Homo sapiens: one gene and its partners. The protein of the gene in region 7 purifies or fractionates together with the protein of the main gene of each other region. This does not show direct contact. Each region holds a gene or a part of one and is shown on either strand. Other genes may lie near its edges.

Evidence for each region.
Region 1: the proteins of DRG2 (region 7) and DDX55 fractionate together in Homo sapiens (co-fractionation; one large-scale study listed by BioGRID). This does not show direct contact.
Region 2: the proteins of DRG2 (region 7) and DNAJC2 purify together in Homo sapiens (affinity purification with western blotting; one study listed by BioGRID). This does not show direct contact.
Region 3: the proteins of DRG2 (region 7) and UBE2R2 fractionate together in Homo sapiens (co-fractionation; one large-scale study listed by BioGRID). This does not show direct contact.
Region 4: the proteins of DRG2 (region 7) and RSBN1L fractionate together in Homo sapiens (co-fractionation; one large-scale study listed by BioGRID). This does not show direct contact.
Region 5: the proteins of DRG2 (region 7) and NT5C2 fractionate together in Homo sapiens (co-fractionation; one large-scale study listed by BioGRID). This does not show direct contact.
Region 6: the proteins of DRG2 (region 7) and C5orf22 fractionate together in Homo sapiens (co-fractionation; one large-scale study listed by BioGRID). This does not show direct contact.

Annotation. Positions count from the first base shown.
Region 1 is NC_000012.12:123,612,099-123,615,598, forward strand, and holds part of DDX55 (ATP-dependent RNA helicase DDX55), read left to right. Parts: intron 1-1,022; exon of another isoform or gene 1,023-1,071; coding exon 1,072-1,154; coding exon of another isoform or gene 1,155-1,208; exon of another isoform or gene 1,209-1,867; intron 1,868-3,086; coding exon 3,087-3,218; intron 3,219-3,500. UniProt on the Homo sapiens protein: Probable ATP-binding RNA helicase. Has ATPase activity and is involved in the maturation of precursor large subunit rRNAs.
Region 2 is NC_000007.14:103,334,768-103,338,267, reverse strand, and holds part of DNAJC2 (dnaJ homolog subfamily C member 2), read left to right. Parts: intron 1-456; coding exon 457-532; intron 533-3,500. UniProt on the Homo sapiens protein: Acts both as a chaperone in the cytosol and as a chromatin regulator in the nucleus.
Region 3 is NC_000009.12:33,911,160-33,914,659, reverse strand, and holds part of UBE2R2 (ubiquitin-conjugating enzyme E2 R2), read right to left. Parts: intron 2,697-3,500; coding exon 2,562-2,696; intron 1-2,561. UniProt on the Homo sapiens protein: E2 ubiquitin-conjugating enzyme that accepts ubiquitin from an E1 ubiquitin-activating protein, and catalyzes its covalent attachment to other proteins by an E3 ubiquitin-protein ligase complex.
Region 4 is NC_000007.14:77,694,971-77,699,258, reverse strand, and holds the start of RSBN1L (lysine-specific demethylase RSBN1L), read right to left. Parts: upstream 2,801-4,288; 5' UTR 2,790-2,800; coding exon 2,204-2,789; exon of another isoform or gene 1,914-2,203; intron 1-1,913. UniProt on the Homo sapiens protein: Lysine-specific demethylase that specifically demethylates methylated lysine residues of proteins.
Region 5 is NC_000010.11:103,099,273-103,102,772, forward strand, and holds part of NT5C2 (cytosolic purine 5'-nucleotidase), read right to left. Parts: intron 2,055-3,500; coding exon 1,963-2,054; intron 1,831-1,962; coding exon 1,773-1,830; intron 1,693-1,772; exon of another isoform or gene 1,480-1,692; intron 1,410-1,479; exon of another isoform or gene 1,391-1,409; intron 748-1,390; coding exon 654-747; intron 1-653. UniProt on the Homo sapiens protein: Broad specificity cytosolic 5'-nucleotidase that catalyzes the dephosphorylation of 6-hydroxypurine nucleoside 5'-monophosphates.
Region 6 is NC_000005.10:31,552,427-31,555,553, reverse strand, and holds the end of C5orf22 (UPF0489 protein C5orf22), read right to left. Parts: intron 2,782-3,127; coding exon 2,652-2,781; 3' UTR 501-2,651; downstream 1-500.
Region 7 is NC_000017.11:18,086,780-18,090,747, reverse strand, and holds the start of DRG2 (developmentally-regulated GTP-binding protein 2), read right to left. Parts: upstream 2,801-3,968; 5' UTR 2,725-2,800; coding exon 2,661-2,724; intron 1-2,660. UniProt on the Homo sapiens protein: Catalyzes the conversion of GTP to GDP through hydrolysis of the gamma-phosphate bond in GTP. When hydroxylated at C-3 of 'Lys-21' by JMJD7, may bind to RNA and play a role in translation.

The DNA of each region.
Region 1 (3,500 bases), on a different chromosome or scaffold from region 7:
CTTTTTTGAGTGCCAACATGATGCTGAGAGGAAATACTCGGAGCATTTTGGATTTCGGATTTCCAGATTAGGGATGCTCAGCTGGTAAGTATAGTGCAGCTATTCCAAAATCTGAAAAAATTCAAAAGCCAAAAAACACTTCGGGTCCTAAGGACCTTGGATGAGGGATACTTGTACTACTGTTAGCTTTGGACACACTGTGGCTACTGTTGCATTCTGTTATTTTGCATTCGTTTTGCATTTAGAGATGGCTGAGTACATGAGAAAAAATTCCAAACTGGGGATTTGGTTTTGGTAAAAATAGGATGAATGCATTCAGGTGAATTTAATGTCTCTAATTTGGGAGTTTGAATGGAGGACTTGATTGCATTATGAAGAAAAGCAGTGGGGTCTGCGTCCATGGAGGCCTTTTAAATAATGATGTACATTGCTTTCTGGAAATCAGTATTCACCTTAGAGCAGTGACTTCTGAACTTGGCATCAGAATTTCCTGGGGGAACTCTTAAATAATAGGGATTCTTAGGTTCAATCTCAGACCTACTGAATCAGAATCTGTATGTCGTACCCAAGAATCTGCATTTAAAAAAAAAAAATCTATCCTTTGGCTGGGCGAGGTGGCTCACGCCTGTAATCCCAGCACTTTAGAGTTGAGGTGGGAGGATCGCCGGATGCCAGGCCAGGAGTTCGATACCAGTCTGGGCAACATATTGAGAGTCTGTCTCTTGAAAAAAAAAAAAGAAGAAAAAAAAAGGTAAATAAATAAAAATCTACCCTGGAGATGGTGTAATGGCTGGCATGTATATTGGGATTGGGAGTTGGGAACTGTTGCCTGTTGGATGACTGTGTTTCTCTGAGCTATATGATTTTGTGACATACAAATTAACTTTTACAGGCAGCAGCACATGTTGATATTTATTCTGAGCTAGGTAGACCAGTTAACATTCCGACTAAAGTCTGTCCTACCCATGGGGGAAATGACATTCCTTAAAATTTAATGCTGAAACTGAAAATAGCCATGGGGATTATTATTGCCAAATATGTTTTTTATTAGTTTCCCTTTTTATTTTGCAGGTATGCAAGGCAGATGAGAAATTTAATCAGCTGGTCCATTTTCTTCGCAATCATAAGCAGGAGAAACACCTGGTCTTCTTCAGGTACTCCTCTGGTCTCTGTGGTAGAGGCATCAGGGATTCAGCCAGAATGTGCAGGTGCATGCGGCCTTTGGGTTTTGGATTCCATCTAGCATGGTTCTCTCCGGAATGCTTTTGGCTGCAAATAACTGAAAACCCAACTTTTGTTGTCCGAACAAGGTTGGCTTTATTTTTCTCCCGTAAAAAGTCGTCCAAAGGCAGGCAGTTTCTCACATGGGTTTCATGTGTCAGTCATGTCAAGGTCAATGTTGATGTGATTGGTCTTCTCTTCCTATGTGTCACCTCATGGATTCTGGATGACCACTATTACACCCTGTCATGTCTCCACTGAAGAAAGATAAGGGGGGAAAGGCAGAGGGGGCTTAGGGCAATGTTAGCTATATCCATGCCTTTTAATCAGGAGAGCAAAGAGCTTCTTCAGAAACCCCTCTGCCCTAGTTGACTTCAGCTGTGAATTCATCTTAGGGGCCAAAAGTGGGTCACGTGGTGGCCCCTCACTTCAAGAGCAGCAGAGAAAATGAGTGCGCAGCTTTTCTGCCTCTGTAGTAGTGGCCAGTGAAGCAAGAAGTGGTTGGGAATAGTGTTTATCAGCCACCCATGGAGTCCGCCACAGTGGGGTTTTGTCCTGTGGTCAGAAGGCAGCGTAGGGACAGATGCATATGTTCTTTGGACTGGTTGGTTCTTTTCCCCTTTTCTCCAGAGATAAATGTGTTGATCTTTAGTAGTACATAAAAAATAATTTTATATTTATTTATATATTTATATTTATAATTTCTTTTCTATCTGTTATCCTACAAATAAAATGCAATATTGACCATGACCCACAGTAAGAAGTACAATTTGGTACACACCCAAACAAGACAATAAAACAAAGGTTTTCATGAAACTGCACCCTGCTAGGTGGGATGTTTTCTATTCTGTTCTACTCCAGCTGTTAATTTTTTTAAAATGCTGGTCGAGACCCACTAAATTGATTTCAGAACCCACCAGGTCTGTGGGTTGTGAGGCTTAGTGTGTGAAACACCACTTCATTACATACTATGTGACTCAAGGTGGAAAAGAGCGGTCACAGCACAGGTGGAGGGACTGAAGTAGACAAGAGTTAGCCCAAACTGGAATGCAGTAGTGCAGTAGTCTGGTCTAGTGGGAGGAGCATTAGACCTGGGTTCTGGTTCTGCCACTTACTCTGTGTCTCTGGTAAGTTTTAGTTCCCTCATCTGCAAAAGGATGGGAAGTCACTTGGGAATGCTTCCAGTTAAGGAAAAGGGTCCAGGGTGAACTTTATTAGAAGGGTGCCGGGTAAGGAGCTCACAGATTCAGAGAATGTTGAGTGTCCAGCTCCCAGGGAAGGAGGCTCCCTGGCAGGAGTTCATGGGCCATCTCTTTAGGGCATATCTTTATTGGGATGACTGCCAACCCCTTTTTGTCTTTGGATGACTCAGCTCCAAGTCCCAAATATCTGGGAGAAGGGATCTGACTGGCCTAGCTTGGGTTATTTGCTGAGCCCTTGGGAATCCTGCTAATTGGGAAAGAAGCAGTTCCCTAAACGGAAAGCAGAAATGTTTTTAAATCTTGTAACACTATTTGTGGCTAAGATGTCATTGCTTTTGTTCTGAATGACTGTTTCACTTTAATTCCTTTCTCGGGGTCAGGGAGATTTCCCGTGAGAACATCTTTAGACAGTAAAATATGTCCTTGGGGGTTTTAATTCATGTTTAAGGGATTTTGTCAAAAGATTGGCCTTTCATTGGCTGAGAGGATTACAGATTGAGAACTCAGTTGTGGATGATTTCCACTGCCATTTTCCTTGTCATTCCCCTAGGGAGGGCTTGTAGTTAGGTTGCGTCTGCTGCAGCTATTGCTCACTGTTCCCCTCTCCCGGTTGTAGAAGGACCAAAGTGGCCAATGACTCTAAGCCCTCTGTCCCTCTTGCAGCACCTGTGCCTGTGTGGAATACTATGGGAAGGCTCTGGAAGTGCTGGTGAAGGGCGTGAAGATTATGTGCATTCACGGAAAGATGAAATATAAACGCAATAAGATCTTCATGGAGTTCCGCAAATTGCAAAGGTGGGTGGGCTTCATTGAAGGTAGCAGCTCTCCTGCCACACTGCTCTTTCAGGTCCCCAAATGCCCCATTCTCTAGTAGCCTGTGCTGTCCGCATGTGTTGTCTTTCCTGCCTGGAACCCTCTTCCCTCTCTAATCTGGTTATCACATCTCTGTAAACACCCCGAGCCTCCATTGCCCTGTTCCAATTGCTTTGCCTTTTGCTATGTCATTTCCCTAGTTACTGAACTTCTGTGCTAGACAGCAGGCTCCGTGACACAGGAGTCCTGTGTATTGTCTTCACT
Region 2 (3,500 bases), on a different chromosome or scaffold from region 7:
GACAGGGTCTTGCTCTGTCGCCTATCCTGGAGTGCAGTGGCATGATCACAGCTCACTGCAGCCTCTACTTACTAGACTCAAGTAATCCTGCTACTTCTGCCTCCTGAGTAGCTGGAACTACAGGTGCACACCACCACACCCAGCTAATTTTTAAAAATTTTTTTGTAGAGACAGAGATCTTACTTTGTTGCCCAGGCTGGCCTCATATTCCTGGGCTCAAGCAATCCTCCACCTGGGCCTCCCAAAGTGCTAGGATTACAGGCATGAACCATGGCACCCAGCCTAATCCACATTTCTCAACCTTACCTGACCATAGACCCTGGTTTATACAGAACCTCTTACTGGACTCCTGATGAAATGTCACTTTGGGAAATGCTTATTAAGGTACCAGAACACAAGGGATGGAATATATTGGCTTCATTTCAAATTTGACTCCCTTTTGTGTTTTTTTTCCAGAACCAAGATCATTATGCAGTTCTTGGACTTGGCCATGTGAGATACAAGGCTACACAGAGACAGATCAAAGCAGCTCGTAAGTACTTAGTTATTTTGAAATAATCAAATATCTTGTATAGGAACAGGCTGGCTATGCTTTTTAAAAGATATACAGTATCATAGTCTGCAGCCATAACTACATTTAACAGCATGTGTTATATTGTCATAACAAGCAAAAAACCACGGTCTCCCCTGCCTTCAGAATCAGAAGAAAGCAATCCATTTTACATATAGACTTTCCCATTAGGGATAAGAAATTAGGATGGGTGTGTGTGTGTGGATACAAAATACTCCTCCAATGGCAAGCTTTTAAAAAATAATACTTCACCTCTCTTTAGAAGTATAGCAGCTGCACTTAGTGGATACTGCCTTTTTATTGTTTTTTGGTTTTTGGTTTTTTTTTTACGTTATTTTGTAATCTTAGGTCACACCTTTGTAGATATCACCCTGTCTTCTGTCCAAGAAAAGTTGTCTGATGTTTTATTGTTGTTTTCATTGACAAGGTTATAATTTGGCATGGGAGAGGGTAATGTTGGGACCCCAGTCTTCATATGCCTTATAAAACACCATCCCTTAATGCTCCTAAATGTCCTATGCTTTGCAATCCTGTGGACATAATTTCTTATACACGTGATCAGTTCAACTGATTAATAAAGTTTAGTGAAAGAGGTAAGAGGTGAAGGTGATCAGTTTTCTATCTTAGGAGAATGTTCTGCCCTCCACTCTAGAGAATGGATATTGAGGTCAGAGAGGGTAAGATTGTGGCCACATGGAAAAGGAGCAGGGAGTCAGGGCCTGTCAAGAAGAGGAAGTATTATATGTGGAGGAAGATGACTGAATAAGAATGCCTGTGGTAAAAATTATTAGTCAATACTTAGCATAGTAGATGAACTCAAAATCGTCCCCATTACTGCTTACATTTAGGAAAATCACAGGAAATATTTTTTAACAAAGTGAAGGAATTTATCAGATTATTTTAAACTGGATTTGTTTAAAGGCTGGCATGAGTCTAGACAAAGCATATGGTAATGCATGTGAATAGTTATTCCAGTATAAATAAATGCCAGAAAAGTCCATTTGCCACGTACAAGTGTTTGCAAAGTTTTACTATACGAAAGAATAGCATTGGCCGGGCGTGGTGGCTCACGCCTATAATCCCAACACTTTGGGAGGCCGAGACGGGTTGATCACCTGAGGTGAGGAATATGAGACCAGCCTGGCCAACGTGGAGAAACACCGTCTCTACTAAAAATACAAAAAAATTAGCTGGGTGTGGTGGTGGGCACCTGTATTCCCAGCTACTTGGGAGGCTGAGGCAGGAGAATTGCTTGAACCCAGGAGGCAGAGGTTGCAGTGAGCCGAGGTCGCACCATTGCGCTCCAGCCTGGGCAACAAGAGCGACACTCTGTTTCCGAAAAAATAGAATAGCATACAAATACCAAATATGTCTTAGTACAGATAAATTTGTTAATTAGAATTGATAATAGAACTGTGAGAATAGTTTGTGTTTTAAGGTGAAAGAATTCTTTCTCAGAAGATTAAAAATGTGCAATAAATTGTAAAAGAAGCATTCATATGCTTCTGTTAAATCCACTGTCTTTTTTTGAGACAGAATTTCGTACTTGTTGCGCAGGCTGGAGTGCAATGGCACCATCTTGGCTCACCACAACCTCCGCCTCCCAGGTTCAAGCGATTCTCCTGCCTCAGCCTCTTGAGTAGCTGGGATTAGAGGCATGTGCCACCACGCCCGGCTAATTTTGTATTTTTCATAGAGACGGGATTTCACCATGTTGGTCAGGCTGGTCTCGAACTCCCGACCTCAGGTGATCCACCCACATCGGCCTCCCAGAATGCTGGGATTACAGGCGTGAGCCACCGCACCCAGCCTAAATCCACTCTTTTTATTGGCCTTGTAGAAATTGATTTTTAGCCAGGCACAGTGGGTCACACCTGTAATCCCAACACTTTGGAAGACCAAGGCAGGCAGATTACTTGAGGCTGGAGTTCAATACTAGCCCGGCCAATGTGGTGAAACCCCATCTCTACTAAAAATACAAAAATTAGCCAGGTGCGGTGGCGCATGCCTGTAAGCCCAACTACTTGGGAGGCTGAGGCATGAGAATCGCTTGAACCTGGGAGGCGGAAGTTGCAGTGAGCGAAGATTGTACCACTGCAGTCCAACCTGAGCAACAGAGTGAGAGAGTGAGACTCTGTCTCATTAAAAAAAAAAAAAAGAAAGAAAGAAAGAAAAGAAATTCAGCTTTTGAATATGTATTCTCTAGCCAAAAATTTTGCAGCACCAGTGTAGAGATTGTTAACAATAAGGGTAATTCTAACTTACTCTCTACCACCCTTGTGGAATATTCCGTCAGTCTTTATTTAGAAAGAAACTGTCATTCTCTCACCTCTGTCACTGTAAAACACAGTTGCTACTCATTGCTTTCTGAAAATCTATCTAAAAGTTAAAATGCAAAGTTACTGTTTGCAAATCTATAATTATTAGCACAAACCTAATAAAAATGTAAATCTGGTACCATTTGATGTCCTTTGAATGCTTGCTTCATATTACAAGCAAAGTTTTATTTTTGTTGAGTATATTTTGAATGTCAGTAATGAAAATTAATTAAGTGTGAAGTAGGAGCCGGGTGCGGTGGCTCACACTTGTAATCCTAGCACTTTGGGAGGCTGGGGCAGGTGGATCACCTGAGGTCAGGAGTTCGAGACCAGCCTGGCCAACATGGCGAAACCCCGTCTCTACTAAAAATATAAAAATTAGGCGGGCATGGAGACGCATGCCTGTAATCCCAGCTACTTGGGCGGCTGCGGCACGAGAACCGCTTGAAACTGGGAGGCAGAGGTTGCAGCCAGCCGAGATTGCACCATTGCACTCCAGCCTGGGTGACAGAGGGAAACTGCCTCAAAAAATGCCCAAAAAAATACCAAAAATATTTGTCACTGTTTCTGAACCCTTGCAGTATATGTTGAAATAAATAATTTTATTATGC
Region 3 (3,500 bases), on a different chromosome or scaffold from region 7:
AGATGGGATTTCACCATGTTGGCCAGGTTGGTCTCGAACTCTTGACCTCAGGTGATCCACCCGCCTCAAAATGTTGGGATTACAGGTGTGAGCTACCACACCAGGCAGCCAATTCTTTTATCAGAACTCAAATAGCATCACCTCTTCCCTCCCAAAAATATTTAAGTGGTACCCCATCACTTCTTACATTAAGAACCATACTCTTATCATGACTTCAATGTCTTTGAAGACCCTGGTGCCTCTCTTGCTTAATTTTCTAATATTTCCCACATCAGAATTTACACTCAAGCATTTGTAATCCCCTTAACATGTCATGCTGTTATACTCCTGTATTTTAGCAAACATGGGTATTTTCCCTTTTTTCACCTGAAAAAGTATTGGTTATAAGGAATTATCTCTGCTAGGAAATCTATTACATTATATATTTCTCCCAGTGTATCTTGTTTAGGCTTCTATAGGTATAATACTACATGGTCATTTGTTTTCAAATGCTAATAAAGTGAGCTCCCTAAGGAGACAGGCTATGCCTTAATGAGTACCTAACACAAAGCTGTTGCTTAGTGTCAGGTACTGTACTAGGTCATTAAGGAATAGATAGAATGAGATAAACGGACCCTTAAACAAATTAAGAAATATATAGAAGTACCTTGGGAATATGTATACCTAAGCTTTCTGATCTTTCAATCCTTAGTACACTCCCACTCCTCTAAATTTCTGTAGGATCTTAATATTTCTACTAATTATCTTCAATGTTTGGTACACATCAGTCACCTAGGTGAGATATATATACACACACAGATGCCCAAACTCTGTCCTTGTAATCCCATAAAAGACAGCTATTGTTTAGGGACAGTTTAAAAGTGATCCCAATGGGCAGAAAACTTAGAACTGCTGATTTTATATTACTCAGCAGTCACCTCATGTCCTTTCCCAGCATTGTTTTAACTTTTTTCATATCACATGGTCTCAAGCCAACTAGATTTTATTCTTATTTGTATAAATGCCAATGCTTAGTCAACTCCTATGCACAGAGGAAGCTGTAACTGTATTTGGGGTCTCTATTTTAAGAAATAAAAATGTAATATCAAGGGGGGTGGAGGCCAGGCACGGTGGCTCACACCTATAATCCCAGAGCTTTGGGAGGCTGAGGCAGGAGGATCACTTGAGGCCAAGAGTTCAAGACCAGGCTGGGCAACACAGCAAGACCTCATCTCTACAAAAATAATAATAGAAATTAGCTGGGTGTGGTGGTGCATGCCTATAGTCTTAGTTACTCAGGAGGCCCAGGTGGGAGGACTGCCTGAGCCCGGGAATTTGAAGTTACCATGTAATCACACCATTGCACTCCAGCCCAGGCAACAGAGTAAGACCATGTCTGTTTCTTTAAAAAGAGGTGGAGGAGGCTGAGTGCAGTGGCTCACGCCTGTAATTCCAGCACTTTGGGAGGCCAAGGCGGGTGGATCATGAGGTCAGGAGTTCGAGACTAGCTTGGCCAACATGGTGAAACCCTGTCACTACTAAAAATCCAAAAATTAGCTGGGCATGGTGGTAGGCGCCTATAATCCCAGCTACTCGGGAGGCTGAGGCAGGAGAATTGCTTGAACCCAGGAGATAGAGGCTGCAGTGAGCCGAGATCACACCACTGCACTCCGGCCTGGATGACAGAGTAAGACTCCATCTCAAAAAGAAAAAAAAAATTAATTAGAAACAAATAAAAAAGAGGTGGAGGGTAGGGGAAGTGTAGGGTTTGTATTTATTGCAAATTTCTTGGGTACTATTATAAGAACCTGATGTCCTAAGAGATTAAAGGTTAAGCTTTTTTCCATTTTATACAGAGGAGAAAGTAAAAGACCCCAAAAATTATCTGATAAATGGTCCCATGAGTAGATTCCAAGTCCCCTGAATCTTATTCTAGGGCTCTGTTATACCATACATTAGTGTTGCTGATAATGAGGATTTCCAAACAATCCTTGCTGCTATGGTCAGGAATGCCAATAAACTGGAAGGCTTTATTTATTCAATTTTTTTTTTTTTTTGAGATGGAGTCTCGCACTGTCGCCCAGGCTGGAGTGCAGTGGTGTGATCTCAGCTCACTGCAACATTCAACTCCCGGGTTCAAGCAATTCTCCTGCCTCAGCCTCCTGAGTAGCTGGGATGACAGGTGTGCACCACCACACCTGGCTAATTTTTGTATTTTTAGTAGAGACAGGGTTTCACCATGTTGGCCAGCCGGTCTCGAACTCCTGACCTCAGGTGATCCGCCTGCCTCAGCCTCCCAAAGTGCTGGGATTACAGGCATGAGCCACCATGCCTGGCCAGAACCTAGAAGTTCTGGTTCCTAGAAAATCAGGTCTGCTACTGCCTTATCTTCTAGTGGCTGTTCTCTCGGTAAACAGCAAAGTTCTTTAGGCTCAGGCAGAAATCTTCTCTTCCCACACTATAAATCTAATAGAGGAAAATTATCCTGGAATGGACAGGATATTTAAGTTTGATTTAAACCCTTGGTTCCAGAATATATTTTGGTTTTGTATAACTTGAGGTAATAAAAAAAAAAACCTTACCTAATAATTTCAGCATATTCTTTGTCTTTTCCTTTACTGTCTCTCCATTTCCTGAACATAACTGAAGCATCGACATTGGCTGGGGAGAAGGTGTTGGGCTCATTAAGCAGTGAGATTACACTTAATAGGATAGTCCTAGAAACAGGAAAAAAGGATCAGCTATGAATACCCATATTTACAGTATTTAAAAGTATTCTGCTTTTTAAGATAGTACAATCAGATTTCAAATTCTCCCTCCCTTAAAATTTTTCTGATACAATTAAATTTAAGACCTTGGGGGAATAGAGATATAAATTTTTTATTGATAGTTTTCATAAAAGGCATTTAAGAAAAATAAAAAAAAATTTTTTTCAGCACTAAGAAACAAGCTGCTAACTGGCAGGCAAAGCAGAGGAAATCTGTGATTCTAGTATAAGGGTAATGCACAAGTGATTCTAGTATAAGGGTAATGCACAAAGCATAAAAATGAACTTGATAGAAGGCCCTGTTTCAACTGGTCACATGTTCCAACCTACAGAAAGCAGATGTCTTAGAAGCTTTCAAATACTGTTTATTTTAAAAATTACAAATTAAATGGCATGGGGGAAAAAGCTTAAAATATTTAGTTTCAAGGCAATCTTGATGTGGGAGCTGGTAAAAATGATGCTATTCTATATAACCAGGTTTTTTTTTTTTTTTTTTTTTTTTTTTTTTTTTGAGATGGAGTTTCACTCTTGTTCCCCAGGCTGGAGTGCAATGGTGTGATCGCAACCTCCACATCCCAGGTTCAAGCGATTCTCCTGCCTGCCTCAGCCTCCCGAGTAGCTGGGATTACAGGCGCCTGCCACCATGCCCTGCTAATTTTGTATTTTTAGTAGAGATGGGGTTTCTCCATGTTGGTCAGACTGGTCTTGAACTCCTGACCTCAGGTGATCCGCCCTCCTCAACCTCCCAAAGTGC
Region 4 (4,288 bases), on a different chromosome or scaffold from region 7:
TAATGTCTGGTTCTGACTCAGACTGTTCAATCAGCCAGCTGTGGATAATTGAGGGGTTACTGAACCATGCACAGCCAACTTAGGGCAACACTAAAAAGAGGTATATACCTAAACAAACACTTGGTCACCCATTCACTAAGATTTTTACAAAAAGCACAGAGAAATGATCATTGTATTGCAAATCAGGACTTTCATATTTGCAATTATATCTATAATAAAGGCATATATGTATTCTTGCTATACCACTTGTTAATACCGCTATTTAAGAATCTTCTTAATTCGTTAAAACAGAACATCAATTCAGTTAAATCCAAACTTTAGAAAGATATAAGTATTCCCCAAGTTACGAGGGAAAAATTTTCACCATTAAATTTACCACCAAGACACTGGAAAGGAATCTTTTTCTCTGATAGTTTTTCCTCAACAAGATAGCATTTGTGTCTGAAAAAATGAAAATCTTACAGTAGTGTTAATATCTTGTCACTACTCCAAAAAACCCACATAGGTCATGGGAAAAGATCATTCCCACATCTTAATGTAAAACCTATCACTGTTTATATTCAGGATTAATAATATTAGTGTTAACCCTCAAAAGAAGAAGGATTCTAAATGTAATTGAAAAGACTATAAAAATTCCTCTTTAACAGCCATTTCACTTTAAGGACCATTTGTGTACTCCACATTTTAAGTTAGAATTGTTAAAGAATGCTTACTTATTTCTTCTCAAATATTCCATTACTCCAACTATGTAATACTCATATTCACTTCCTCTTTCAGAGAACTTACAGCAAATGTGCAGTTTACACACCACAAACACTAGTGATGATACCAAGCTGCATATGGACAAACTTCCAGGCACTTATCTCCTAAATTTTACATATAAATTGTTAAAACAAAATAGCTTTAAAATACTAATCACCTGGAATTCCTGACTAAAAGTACCAAAATCCCATCCTCAAAACCACTTTCCTAGAAACAACACTCCCAGAAGCTGAAAGATATTTACATTGCACCAGAGTCCCTGATGGCTATGCTTAGATGTTAAAGCTTTGCTACAGGCAAAAAATATCAAGGAAGAAGTGACACTATTGCTACATGCACATGCAGCATGTTTTAAGTTGTGAAAACAAACCATTATAATCCAAACAGAATTTTTCATGATCTGAGCTACTGTTAGATCAGCAATGCTGAAACTGCTTGACATTTCTTTTTCTAAAAAACAAAAAGAGTTATTTGACAACACTGTGTAGCAGTGCACATTTATAATAAAGATTATGCGCTTTAAGCTTGCGATCACATAAAGATTTGATTTTCAACTAGTCCGTATGTTGCACTATTGTCAGATCATTGTGTATCCGTAGCTGAAGTGGTGGAAACACCTGAAAAATTATACGACTAGCCTACATTTAAAAACAAAACTGACCCTGTCTGACAAGAACCCTTAAGAATTCGCCTTTTTCTAATGCTCAAACATTCTGCAGCCGCTTGATCTGGCGAAAAATCGTCAAAGCTCCTGGTTTTATCATTTGCTGCAGGGAAAAAAAGAATATGGCTGAAAATTCTTTCAGAAGGGTGGTATTTCAAACAGGACCACCCAAAACACTTAAGAATACGCAGCGGAGAGTAGGGTGCAGGGAGGGTACCTTACGAAACAGCGCACTTCGGGCCCTGCACGCTACCTCATTTCCCTAATAGGGATGAAAAGCTCAGGCCTCTGGTAGCTTCCAGCTGACGCCAGTGCTCTCTCCACACCCCTTTTTTGACAGGATTATCCGGGGTTGAACGCTGTGTCACAAATACGAATTCCCGCGACCACGTCTAAGTGGTCTAACAATCAATCAAGCATCTTTTACAAAACCAAACCCTTCCCCCATCCCGTTCCCTCCATCTCTCTCCCTAGCCAAACAAACCTAGGAGAGTCCTCAAGATGGATTTTCACAAATCCTGCAGCGCACTAACTGGGAGGAAGAAACGATACAGAAAATAAGAGTGTCGGCCATCCCCCTCTCTGCAACCGAAATTACAGGCTCCATTTCCTGTCCCCTTGGGAACTGCAAAATCCTCTGCTGAAAACCGGACGCCTCCCAGCCCCTCCAGGCCGGCGCACGCGGCCGCCGCGCTCCCCCTTCCCGGGCCCCGTGGGCGCCAGGGGGCGGCGGGGACCCACGGCGCCCTCCCCTCCCCCTCCCCGCACGGCACCCACCTCGGGGCAGCGGCTTCACCTCCCCGTTCTCCTCCCGGGAGGCCCCGCCGGCCTCTCGGGCCCCACCGAGACCGTGCCTCCTCCTCTCCTTCTCCCGCTTCTCCTTAGGTCTGCGCGACTTGGCGTTAGCCGAGGCAGCGGCGGCGGCGGCGGGCAGGAGGAGATGGTGAGGCTGAGCGTGCAGCAGCGTAGGAGGGACCAGCAGTTTGCGCGGCACCGGCTGAGACAAGGAAGCGGAGGCTGAGGAGGGAACGGCCGTGCCAGCGGAGAAAGAGAAACTGCTCCGAGAAGAGGACGGGGAGGGAGCAGCAGACAGAGGGGCAAAGCTCCAAGACGCGGGGCTGCCATAGCTCTGAGGCGAAGGTGCTGCCGGCGGCTGCAGCTGCCTGCTGTTCCCGCCGCTGCCCCCTTCTCCGTTCACTCTCCGCGGTGCCTTCTTCTCCTCAGTCCGGACCTTCTTGGCGGACAGAGAACCCGGAGGGTCCCGGGAGGAGAGTTGCAGCTTGCCAAACGGTTCTTTCTCCGAGACGGTGGCGGTGGGGGCCGCGGCAGCGACACAGTGCACGGGGCTCGGCGGTTCCGCCATTTTGCGCTCCTGTTGTATTTACTCTCCTCCGCTAGCCGGCGCGGGGCAGGGGGCGGGCCCTCCGCGAGGGGTAGGGAAGGGGCGGAGCGGCCAGGCCACCAGCCGGCATTGCTCCATTGGGCAAGCCACGCTGAGGGATCCACCTAAGAGCCAATCAAAGGCACAAACATCAGACGAAGGGGCGGGATCGCCACAGGGACCCTCTTCGGAGGTCAGAGCTCGGCGGGGTGCGGCTAGTGGCGGAGCGCGCTGCGAGGGGAGGGCTTTCCACTGTCGCTGGCGTGAACTCGCGTGCCCGGTGGGTATCAGGGAAGAACCCCCGCCCCGGACCCCCAGATCTGCCATGGCCGAGGTAGCGATCGTCTCTGCGGCCACGAAGACTGTTTTAACTTGTACCACTTTCCCTTCCATTTTTCCTGGGGTGCCTCTCACCCTGCATCTGCGCGTTCAGCAAGCTGGATTTCGGGAATGCTCAGTTCAGAAGAGAAAAAATTGCCGGGAATCAAGTCCTTCTTTTTGTTAGTCGGTAGTCGATTGATGGGAAGTGTTCAAAATCATTCGATGTGGTGACAAGGTACGTTATTATTGCTAGATCATGTGCTGTAATCCATTGAAGGAGATAACTTCCAGCAAATCTAGAACTTTAGTATTACTTACAAGCTTGAAGGTGAGAGTCTCCCTTTGGAGACTTTTGAACTGTTGTGACTAGACCCTTAAGATTTTTATTTTATTTATTTATTTATTTATTGGGACGGAGTTTTGCTCTGTTGTCGAGGCTGGAGTGCCGTGGCGCGATCTCGGCTCACCGCAACCTCCGCCTCCCAGATTCAAGCGATTCTCCTGCCTCAGCCTCCCCAGTAACAGGGACTACAGGCGTCCGGCACCATGCTTGGCTAATTTTTGTGTTTATTAGAGACGGGGTTTCACCATGTTGGCCAGGCTGGACTCGAACTCCTGATCTCAGGTGAGCGGCCCACCTCCGCTTCCCAAAGTGCTGGGATTACAGGCGTGAGCCACCATGTGCGGCCTTAAGATTTGAATTTTATAATAATTATTATAGCCGGGCGCGGTGGCTCACACCTGTAATCCCAGCACTTTGGGAGACCGGGGCGGGCGGATCACGAGGTCAGAAGTTCGAGACCAGCCTGACCAACATGGTGAAACCCCGTCTCTACTAAAAATGCAAAAATTAGCTGGGCATGGAAGCGCGCACCTGTAATCCCAGCTACTGGGGAGGCTGGGGCAGGAGAATCGCTTGAACCCAGGAGGCGGAGGTTGCAGTGAGCCGAGACTGCGCCACTGCACTCCAGCTTGGGCGACAGGGCAAGACTCCGTCTCAAAAAATAATAATAATAATAATAATATTATTATTATTATAACGTAGACTTGCCAGGAAAAATTCGTTGGCGATTATTTATGGATGTTTGAAAAGCAAGAATTGTTTTTTTAGGTTTCTGTATTTTAGCGTTTAGTAAGCACACTGCGTGTTCGATGTTTTG
Region 5 (3,500 bases), on a different chromosome or scaffold from region 7:
TCATGTTGCCCAGGCTAGTCTTGAACTCCTGAGCTCAAGCAATCCACCTGCCTTGGCATCACAAAGTGCTGGGATTACAGGCATGAGCCATCATGCCCAGCCCCAAATGCATTTCTTAAGGATTTACCAAAATGGAAAAGTGGACAAACTAGAGAAGGCCAGAAAAAAGTAGCAGGTATGATTTGCTGCAACCCTGCCTCTAAAATTTGTCTTCAAAATATAAAACAGTTTCTATTTTAAGTTTGAAATTAAAAGGCATTTCATATTTTATTCAATAGTTTATAATACATGTAAATTTAATATTTATTAATGTTATTAGTCGGGTGGGAGGTATCTGGACAAAAAAAATGGACCACTGTCATCCACAAAGGATATGTTAAGTATAATGTAATACACTAAAACCTCTTCTAAGTTTGAGAAATGCAAACTAAAATAAAATCCAGAAGCCAAACACCATCACTGAGGAAAGATCAACATTACCACCGAGACCAAAGACAAGAACAAATGTATTCTAGAGGGCTATCACTAGGCGGGGGCAAATCTGTTTTTTCTTTTTTTAAAAAAAGAAATATTCTGCTCCATTTGGAAAGTTAATGCCACGCCATAAAATACATGCCAGAAAGCAAGCAGGTGAAGAAACAGCTTCTAGGTACCTTGTAATGAACCCAGTCAACAGCATCTCTTACATCCTGGAACATACTCCGGTAGGACATGAAGAGGTCCCCATCTTTAAATCCTGTTTCACAACTACAGAAAGATAAAAATAACATGACAGGGGATCCAAAACAGGGTAAACAAAATATATATCAAAAATTTCCCAGGGGACCCAAAGGTTCCATATCACATGGGTAAAGGCTGTGGCTAATGAGGAAAATAATTACTCCCTAATGAAAGTCCACTTTGACCACCAGAAATGGCTATAGTGTTCAATGGAATACAGTAATTGTGAACAAATACAAAGTGATAGAAGAATATATTGAATGGAAGCTAAAAGGCCAAAGTTCCAAAAATGTCAGGTTTTTTTATTTATCACTTTTTAGAAACAGGTTGAAGAAACATTTAAAACTTAAAATTGGTCATTTAGGTTCTTTCCACCCTGACTTTCCTGACACTGTCCCTAAGTACAAAGGTACTGTCCATTTTTTTATTTAGTTCAGTGACTCAGCTTTCCACCAAATTTAGTGTCTTCAAGTGGATAAAGCCCAAAGAGGATAAGAAGTTAGCCAACTCTGGTATATAGATGGCTAAACTTTCAGTATTGGCTATATAATTCTCCCTAAAGGGAGAGGATAACTTGTTTAAGACTTACGCAAAATTTTACTTCTGATAAGATACACAGTATTTATTCCTTAATCAAATCTTGCCTGGCCTGGGAATGAAATTAAATTACCATCCCTGAATGGCTCCTGGGTAGCTGCTGTGAAATGAGTTGGGGGGTTTTAGTGTAATTCTGCTTGGACAGATAATCATCACACAAACCTCCCACTCAGTTGTCACAATTAGCACCTCTGCTGGCCGTCTTCATTCCCAGGAGAAGCCAATCAGAAGTGGTGGCTGCAGCACACTGGCAAGGAGAGGGGCCGTGTGGGAGGTGAGAGCCTGCATGGAGCTGCTGGTGCTGTCCCATCTCTCAGGTTGGCAATGTGGCATCTCTCACTAGCACTAAATTCACTTTAGAAAAGCAGAAAAGACCTACAATGGCCAGTTCTCTAAAACCCTGTGCATTAATTTTAAAAATCAATTGGAAAAAAATAATTATAGTATATACATACCTGGTATATCTGGGACAATTAGTAAAAAAATCTACTAGGCAGGCCAACAGGTAGGTCTCTGAAAAATGAAGAACAGATATTCATAAGCTATAATGAAATAATTCAAACTTATTTCATTACCTCCCTTGAATACAGACTAATGGTCACAGAAGGGAAAGCATCAGTATAAATAAGCATAGAATGAATCTACCTGGTAGGTTGAATAGTGTGTTCAGAATGTAAAATCTTTCAGTATCATCTCGCTGGATAAATTTATTTGGATACTGTTCTCTAGTTTCTGGTCTGAAAGAAAAATTTAAAAATTAACTGATTTTTAAAATAACATTATAATAATTGGGAAATAGCATTATTCAAAAATTAACTCAAATATTTTGATGGCTATGTGCAAGACAGAATTCCGAATATTACGCATGGATAGCTATGAAGATGAACGAGTTCAGGTTCCAGCTCTTTATTTTTTTTAATTTTAATTTTTTTTTTTTTTTAAGACAGTCTTGCTATTTTAAGTCCAGGCTGGACTCAAACTCCTGAAGATTGCTCAAGCAATCTTCCCACCTCAGCCTCCCAAGTAGCTGGGATTACAGGTGTGATGTCCAGCTTAGGTTCCAGCTCTTAAAAGAGTTGTCAGTGTGGTGGGCGAGGTGGGTCACATACACATATAATTATAAGGTAAAAAATCACAACTACTACAAGAAAGGTGCAAACATTTATGAGAAAACCAAAGAAGGGAACACCATTTCAACTTAAGAGGTAGAGAGAAGCAAATGTGAGGACTAAGGAGAGGAAAATCTAGGAAGGATTCATGCACGTGCTGGTATATGAGCTGGGCCTTAAAGGCTAGGTGGACCAGTTGTGAAACTAGTCCAACTTGGGTAGAGAAAGGGGAGCAGAGAAAAATTAAGCTAGAAAGATGGGTTGAGGCAGATTAAGCTACTGTTTCTACACCATTTAGGGGCAAGAGGGTACTACTGACAGTTTTAAAGCAGAGGATAATCCCATCGGGGCTGAGTTGTAAAACAAAATTAAATTAGTGGCTGTTTTAGGATAAACTGGGGAAAGACAATGTGATGCACTCCAACAATGGCCACAAATTCTTCCTGTCTCTTTGTGATGCAATTTTGTGGCTCCTCCCATTAGAACTCAGTCTATTTCTCTATCCTTGAATATAGGCTTGTATAGCAGCAAATGGGATCCAAGCAGAGACCTAGAAAAACATGTGTGTATTGAGGCTTAATCTCTCTTGCAGCACTTGGAACCATGGACTACTATGTGCATGACAGTGAGATAGTCTGCTGGAGGATAGAAGGCTACATGTAGAAATGAAGCACTCGGCCAACAGCCTGTGAATGCCAGACATGTGCATGAGGCCATTGTAGATCAGATGCCAGGTCACCCACCAGCTAACCACAGACATGTGAAAGAGCATAGAGAGATCAGCTGTGCAACCCAGAATCACCCAGTTGACTCTCAGAATTTTTTCTTTTTTCTTTTTTTTTTTTTGAGACAGAGTCTCACTCTGTCGGCCAGGCTGGAGTGCAGTGGCGTGATCTCAGCTCACTCATATATTCAAGAGAGATTACCAAGGTAAAATAAGACCCGGCAAACTGAGCAGATTTGGCTGGGGGAACATTAAAGAGTCAAAGATGATGATGTCCATGCTAAGGTGTCTCTGAGAGGTGGTTGGTACGATGAACAGAAATATGAAAACTAGATAAGAAGTGATGTGAG
Region 6 (3,127 bases), on a different chromosome or scaffold from region 7:
GCTCCTTGAGAAGCTAGAACACATAAAGACCCGTGCCTATAGGAAATATTTCTTTCTTTTTTTTTTTTGGAGACAGAGTCTGTCTCCGTCGCCCAGGCTGGAGTGCAGTGGTGCGATCTTGGCTCACTGCAAGCTCCGCCTCCTGGGCTTCCGCCATTCTCCTGCCTCAGCCTCCGGAGTAGCTGGGACTACGGGTGCTTGCCTACACGCCTGGAGAATTTTTTTTTTTTTTGTATTTTTGGTGGAGACGGGGTTTCACCGTGTTAACCAGTATGGTCTCGATCTCCTAACCTCGTGATCCGCCCACCTCGGTCTCCCAAAGTGCTGGGATTACAGGCGTGAGCCACCGCGCATGGCCAACTATAGGAAATGTTTCTAAAGAGATCTAAAATTGACAGTCAAAAGGTTATTATGAAAGGCTGGACTTAAATTTTTTCCCCGTAGATACTAGGAAATACACAACTTATTAAGTTAAAGTCTACGCTTACACTTAAGTCACATTTTTTAAAAAGCCACTAAAATCCCATGCTTTAATGATATTAGTACACAATTCAAAACACTGTACCACGGTATCCCCTCACTGGTACTCAGAACACAAATGAAACACATCTTGATAAAGTAAATACCTTCCTATTTGGAATGTGCAAGACATAATTTACTAAGTTGATTCTTTTCAACTATTAGGGACTGAATTTTATTCTCAAAGAGATGATCACAGAACATGAGAATTAAACAAACCTTCCTATAAAAGAAATGGATGCTTTTATTCAACCTGAGTTAAAACCACAATGAATCATATCAGAGTTCATGGGAATCATAATAAATGACTAGTAAACCACTCACAAAATCAAAGCTATCAACATACTAGGATCACACACATTAATTAGTGCTATAGTTCAAAACATACCCTTTAACTTATTTAGCACGCAAAATAATCATAAAAGTAATGTCTATAAGCTCTAACCAAAAATTTTAAAAATTAAAAATAGCACAATTCTACAATTCTGATTTTACCAAGAAAATAAACCTTTTTTGGCACATATTATCCTATGAAAATGGAAAGCTGAGTCAGGCTGCTCTGCTTTTCACAGCACAAATAAGCATTCATGCTATCAGACTTGGGAAATTAACTCGGTGACAAAAATTCACTGGAAAATAGAATCCTTGGAAAAATGGGGTCAGGTGCCATCCACTGTGAGGCAATGATAATGTGTGTCCTTCGTTATTAGCACAAAGTTAGGCAGCACACTATAATTTTAGCTACATGCAACTCTATAGGAACACATGTGGGTAAGGCCTGAAAGTTACAAGCAAGAGTGAAAAGAACTGCTGTGTTGGGACTGAGGAATGATGGGTGTTTGTTTTTCTTTAAATGTCATTTCACCTTTTAAAGGAAAATAAATCAAGTAGGTAGGTAAAAATTACTGAACTAAAGAGATACTAAAGATCAGAAGACTGGCCAATTGAGAAAATCAAGTTTCATGATTAAGAGTGACTCAGGAAGGATGTCTTAGTTATGAGGGGGGTGGTGGAAGACAGTTTATATCTTTGGGTATTTATGGCAGGTCAGAATTAAAGATTTAACTTTTTCCCTTACTCTTTACATAAAAAGCTGGTTTATCTGAAAAAAGTATCAATCTAGACTTGGCAATAAAGTGGCACTTAGGCACTATATTATTGATATCTACAATGACCTCCTGGATGCACAAGAGACCCTGAAGGGCTTTTTTGATCAGCAAAACAAAAACAGAAAAGCAAAAAACAGTTAATTTTTGTTTGGTCAAGTTTACTCAACCAGACCACCTTGATACCAACAATGCTGGAGAGCATTTGGCAAGAGCAGGGCCACAATGCCAAATTCCTTGGAAAGGTAGACTTCCTATGATACTTTCATGGATTGGCAAATTTGTGGGGTTTTTTTGGTAGTAGCTTTTGAGAATGTTAGTTTCTGGCTGGGGTAGTGACTTACATCTGTAATCCCAGCACTTCGGGAGGCGAAGGCAGGTGGATTGCTTGTGCCCAGGAGTTTGAGACCAGCCTGGGTAACATGGTGAGACCCCATCTCTATTTTTATAAAATTAAAAAAAAAAAAAAAGATAGAGAATGTTACTTTCCTATAAAGCCATGATACCCTAAGTACTAAGACATGTCTGTTGTTGTCCTTTCCTTCATAACATTTCTCATAACCCGTAATTTACTTCTCATCTGTCTCCCCTAAAAGGGCAGGGGCCTTGTCTATTCTGTTCATTACCATATACCCAGCACTTAATAATGTCTGGTACATGTAAGTGTTCAACAAATATTAGTTGAATGAATAAATGAAGTATGAATGAATCTCATACAGCTCAACAGACCTGGGGGAAAAGTGAAGACAAACAAACAAACAAACAAAAAAAAAAACAAAACCCTAAAAAATACTTAAGGAAGACAGATAAGCAACAGTTCTATCAGTTGGGGTTATGAGACTTGATGCCAAAAAATTTACCATCATTCACAACTGACAATGGTTGTTCAGAGATTCAAAATATCTGAAAGATTTCAACTGAAAGTTAATATAAAACAGTGTTCTCTGGAAGACTCATGTACAAATAAGTTAATTAAGGGCCTGTTACTAAACCAAGATACAACAGGAGCCTAATGTTTTGTTTGTTTCAAGATGGAGGAGACTCTGCTGCATACACTTGGAGGTCTAGATTTCCATAGAGGGCACGTAGCATATTGAGGACCTTTTCTTGAATAGTGTCAACTTGGTCAGAAGGACAGTAATCATCCAGACTTGACCTAGAACCAACAGAAAGAGAAAGAAGAAAAATACACATAGGATAAAATCATACTGTGAGGAAAAGCTGCATGTGTTCATTTCAATGTAAAACAGAAATTAAGGTGTGCTGAACTTTGGATTAATATCAATTGAAAGCTAGTGAAGGTTTACCCCATGTTAGTCACCTTACATAAATTATGTTCTTTAATTTTCACAGCAACTCTATGAAATAGGCACAATTACTATCCCTTTAAAGAAATCTGAAAGAGATTAACCTGTGCAAGGTGACATGCGGTGTGTGCCTTAATGCTTGATTGCTAGACCATTGTTTGCCTGAAAGTGAGATGTTGCTTGGGAATACAGGGG
Region 7 (3,968 bases):
CCCTGGGCAACATAGTGAGACCGTGCCTCTACAAAAAACATAAAAATTGGCCGGGTGGGGTGGCTCACGCCTGTAATCCCAGCACTTTGGGAAGCCGAGGTGGGCGGATCAACTGAGGTCCGGAGTCCGAAACCAGCCTGACCAACATGGAGAAACCTTGTCTCTACTAAAGACACAAAATTAGCTGGGCGTTGTGGCACACACCTGGGAGACTGAGGCAGGAGAATCCCTTGAACCTGGGAGGCGGAGGTTGCGGTGAGCCGAGATTGCACCATTGCACTCCAGCCTGGGCAACAAGAGTGAAACTCCATCTCAAAAAAAAAAAAAAAAAAAAAAAAAAATATATATATATATATATATATATATATATATATATATAAATTAGCCCGGTGTGGTGGTGCACACCTGTAGTCCCAGCTACTCAAGAGGTGGAGGTGGAAGGATTGCTCGAATGCAGGAGTTTGAAGTTACAGTGAGCTATGATCACACCACTGCACTCCAGCACTCCAGCCTGGGCAACAGAGCAAGACTGTCTCAAAAAAAAAAAAAAAAAAAAAAAAGGATTCAGTGTCAGTCAGGTACACATGGCCCTTCCTGTCATCCCAGCTCCTAAAATTCTGAGCATCTCTGAAGGGAGGGACTAGGTCTTAATCACCTTTATATCTCCTTTGTCTACTACTGCCAAAGTGGCAGCATCTCTAGCCTCCCTGTGACTTTCCTTGGGTCTTATGGGTAATATGGAATATTACAGCAGCCAGAGGGAACTTTCAAGACAGAAGTCAGAATAGCCCCTCCCCTGCTTAACACCCTGCACCAGCTCCCACTGCCTTAGAACACAACCCAGAGTCTTTCCCATGACCTATGGCTCTGCATGATCAACCCCCTCCTGTCCCATCACTGCACCCCAGCCCCAGTCCTGTTGACCTGTAAACAGCCAAGTTTGTTCCTGCCTCAGGGCCTTTGCACTAGCTGCTCTTTCTGCCAGGAACCCTCTTCCCCCAGATGTTTGCGTGACCGGTTCCTTCTTTTCAATCAGGTCTTAGTTCAAATGCCCCATCCTCATGGTGGTCTTCTCTATCACTCCACCTAAGCAGACCCAATCCCCAGTCCCTCCCCACCCCCAATATTCTGCTGTATCACCCTGGTTTGTCTTCATAGCACATATTGCTGGCTGACATTATCTTATTTATTTGATTTCTAGTTTTCAGACCGTCAACTAGAAGATCAGATCCAAGGGCTGGGATATGCCTGCTGTGTTCACTGCTTTAACCACAGTGCCTAGCACATAGTAAAGGCTCAGGAAAGATCGGCCAGGCACGGTGGCTCATGCCTGTAATCCCAGCACTTTGGGAGGCCGAGGCGGGTGGATCACCTGAGGTCAGGAGTTTGAGACCAGCCTGGACGACATGGCAAAACCCCCTCTCTACTAAAAAAATACAAAAATTAGCCGGGTGTGGTGGCACGTGCCTGTAATCCCAGCTATTTGGAGGCTGAGGCAGGAGAATCGCTTGAACCTGGGAGGCAGAGGTTGCAGTGAGCCCAGATGGCACCACTGCACTCTAGCCTGGGTGACAGAACAAGACTGTCTCAAACAAACAAACAAAAAAGATTTACAGAAGGAATGAGTCATAGAGGGCCCTCAACTCCTTGGCCTTCAAACCTAAATGGAACCAAGGGAGGGCAGACACTGGGACCAGCTATCTAGTGTTGCTTGCTTCCTGCTCCCACAAGCCTGAATGGCTAGCCACTAGCCTGGCCAATTGCATCTCCCATTACTCTTCCATAACCCCCTTCTGATCTAGATTGTTCTCACTGTCCCATGAACATACCATGCTCACTCCCATGTCTTTGTCTCAGCAGTGGCCCCCACCTGGGATACCCTTCCAACAACCAGCTCAAGTCCCACTTTGTCCTGGTGTCATCGTTCTCTCCTCACCTCTCTTCTGTGAGCTCCTCCAGCCCTTACATTCTAAAGTCCAGATTTGAGGCTTCATTATGTATTATCTATGTTGGGGTGTTTACTTTAAATACTGAGTGCTCACCATGTGCCCAGTGCTTTGTAAAGGCCATCTAATTTAACTCAGCTGTGTACTAAGATGGAGCAGGGGAGTATTACCCCATTTACAGATGAGGACACTGAGACTCCAAGAAATGAAGTGACTTTCCAATGTTTTACAGAAGGTACGTGGTGGACCTGGGGCTCAAACCCAGGCCTTCCAGACTCCAGAGTCCTGATTCCCTTGCTCCAATGGGCTCTCAGCTGCTGGGTGAGGCTGTTCCTGAGAGGTCTCCTCTTGCACTTCCCAAAACAACAGAGTAGACCCAGGCCCCAGGCCCAGCCATCAGGAGACTGAGGTTTGAACCCCAGCTCCGCCTCTCTCTGGGTCAGATGCTTGCTCTGTGAGCTGGGACTACTCTACTCGGGCACACGGTCTGGGACTGACCAGATCTCTTGGGGTACGTTTGCAGTCAGACCTGGGCGTGAGACCCGCTCCCGCCTGGCCCTGCCTTGGGCGCGCAGGGCGGCCTCGGCACTTGTCTGGCAACTTCTCCGCGGCCTCGGATCTTGCCCCAGCATTACTGCTGGAGTTGTTCCCCCATTTTACAGACAGGAAAACTGAGGCAGGCAGAAAGGAAGGCCCCGCCCGGCCGGCCCTCACCCTTGTTCTTCTGTGTCCGAGCGATCTCCTTCTCGATCTCCGAGATCTTCTCTAAGATCCCCATGGTAGCAGCAGAGGTGGGCGCACAGACAGCGGTGGCGGCGGCACCGGCAATTCCGGTCTGACGGCGGCGACAGAGTAGCGTGCGCCCGGAAGCCAAAGAGAACAGCGTTCTCGTGGGCGCCTGGTGCTCCAGGATTCAGAGTCCGGGCGAGCCAAGTGCCAGACACTATCGGTTCCGCCCGCTGGGCCGGCCAGGCTGCGGACCTCTGGAAAGAGCCGGGGCGGGGCCGGGCCATGCTGTACTGGCCCACGGCTGCGGCTGGCAGGAGCAAGCAAGGAAGAGAGGGAATCTGCCCGTGTTGAACTCTGAACTGCGGGTCCCTGAGCGCAGCTGACTGGCAGTGTAAGGAAAAGGGGCTGAGCCGAAAGCCTAGTGGCTTTCATTTTATACTATAAATGGAGGTGTCCAATCTTTTGGCTTCTCTGGGCCACATTGGAAGAATTGTCTTGGGCCACACGTAAAATACACCAACACTAACGATAGCTGATGAGCTTAAAAAAAAATCGCCAAAAAAACCCTCAATGTTTTGGCCGGGCGCGGTGGCTCACGCCTGTAATCCCAGCACTTTGGAAGGCCGAGACGGGCGGATCACCTGAGGTTGGGAGTTCGAGACCAGCCTGACCAACATGGAGAAACCCATGTCTACTAAAAATACAAAATTAGCCGGGCGTGGTGGCGCGCGCCTATAATCCCAGCTACTGGGAAGGCTGAGGCAGGAGAATTGCTTGAACCCGGGAGGCGGAGGTTGCGGTGAGTGGAGATTGCGCGCCATTGCACTCCAGCCTGGGCAACAAGAGCGAAACTCCATCTCAAAAAACAAACAAACAAAAAACCTCAGTTTTTTTTTCTTTGTTTTAGTTTTGTTTTTTTGAGACGGAGTCTCACTTTGTCATCCAGGCTGTAGTTCAGTGGTGTGATCTTGGCTCACCGCAACCTCCGACTCCTGGGTTCAAGTGATTCTCCTGCCTCAGCCTCCCAAGTAGTTGGGATTACAGGCGCGTGCCACCACACTCGGCTAATTTTTGTATTTTTAGTAGAGACGAGGTTTCACCATGTTGGCCAGGCTGGTCACGAACTCCTGACCTCAAGTGATCTGCCTGCCTCAGCCTCACAAAGTGCTGGGATTACAGGCGTGAGCCGCTGTGCCCTGCCTAAATTTCATAATGTTTTAAGAAAGTTTACGAATTTGTGTTTGGCCACATTCAAAGTGGTCCTGGGCCACATGTGGCTGCAGACCTCAGGTG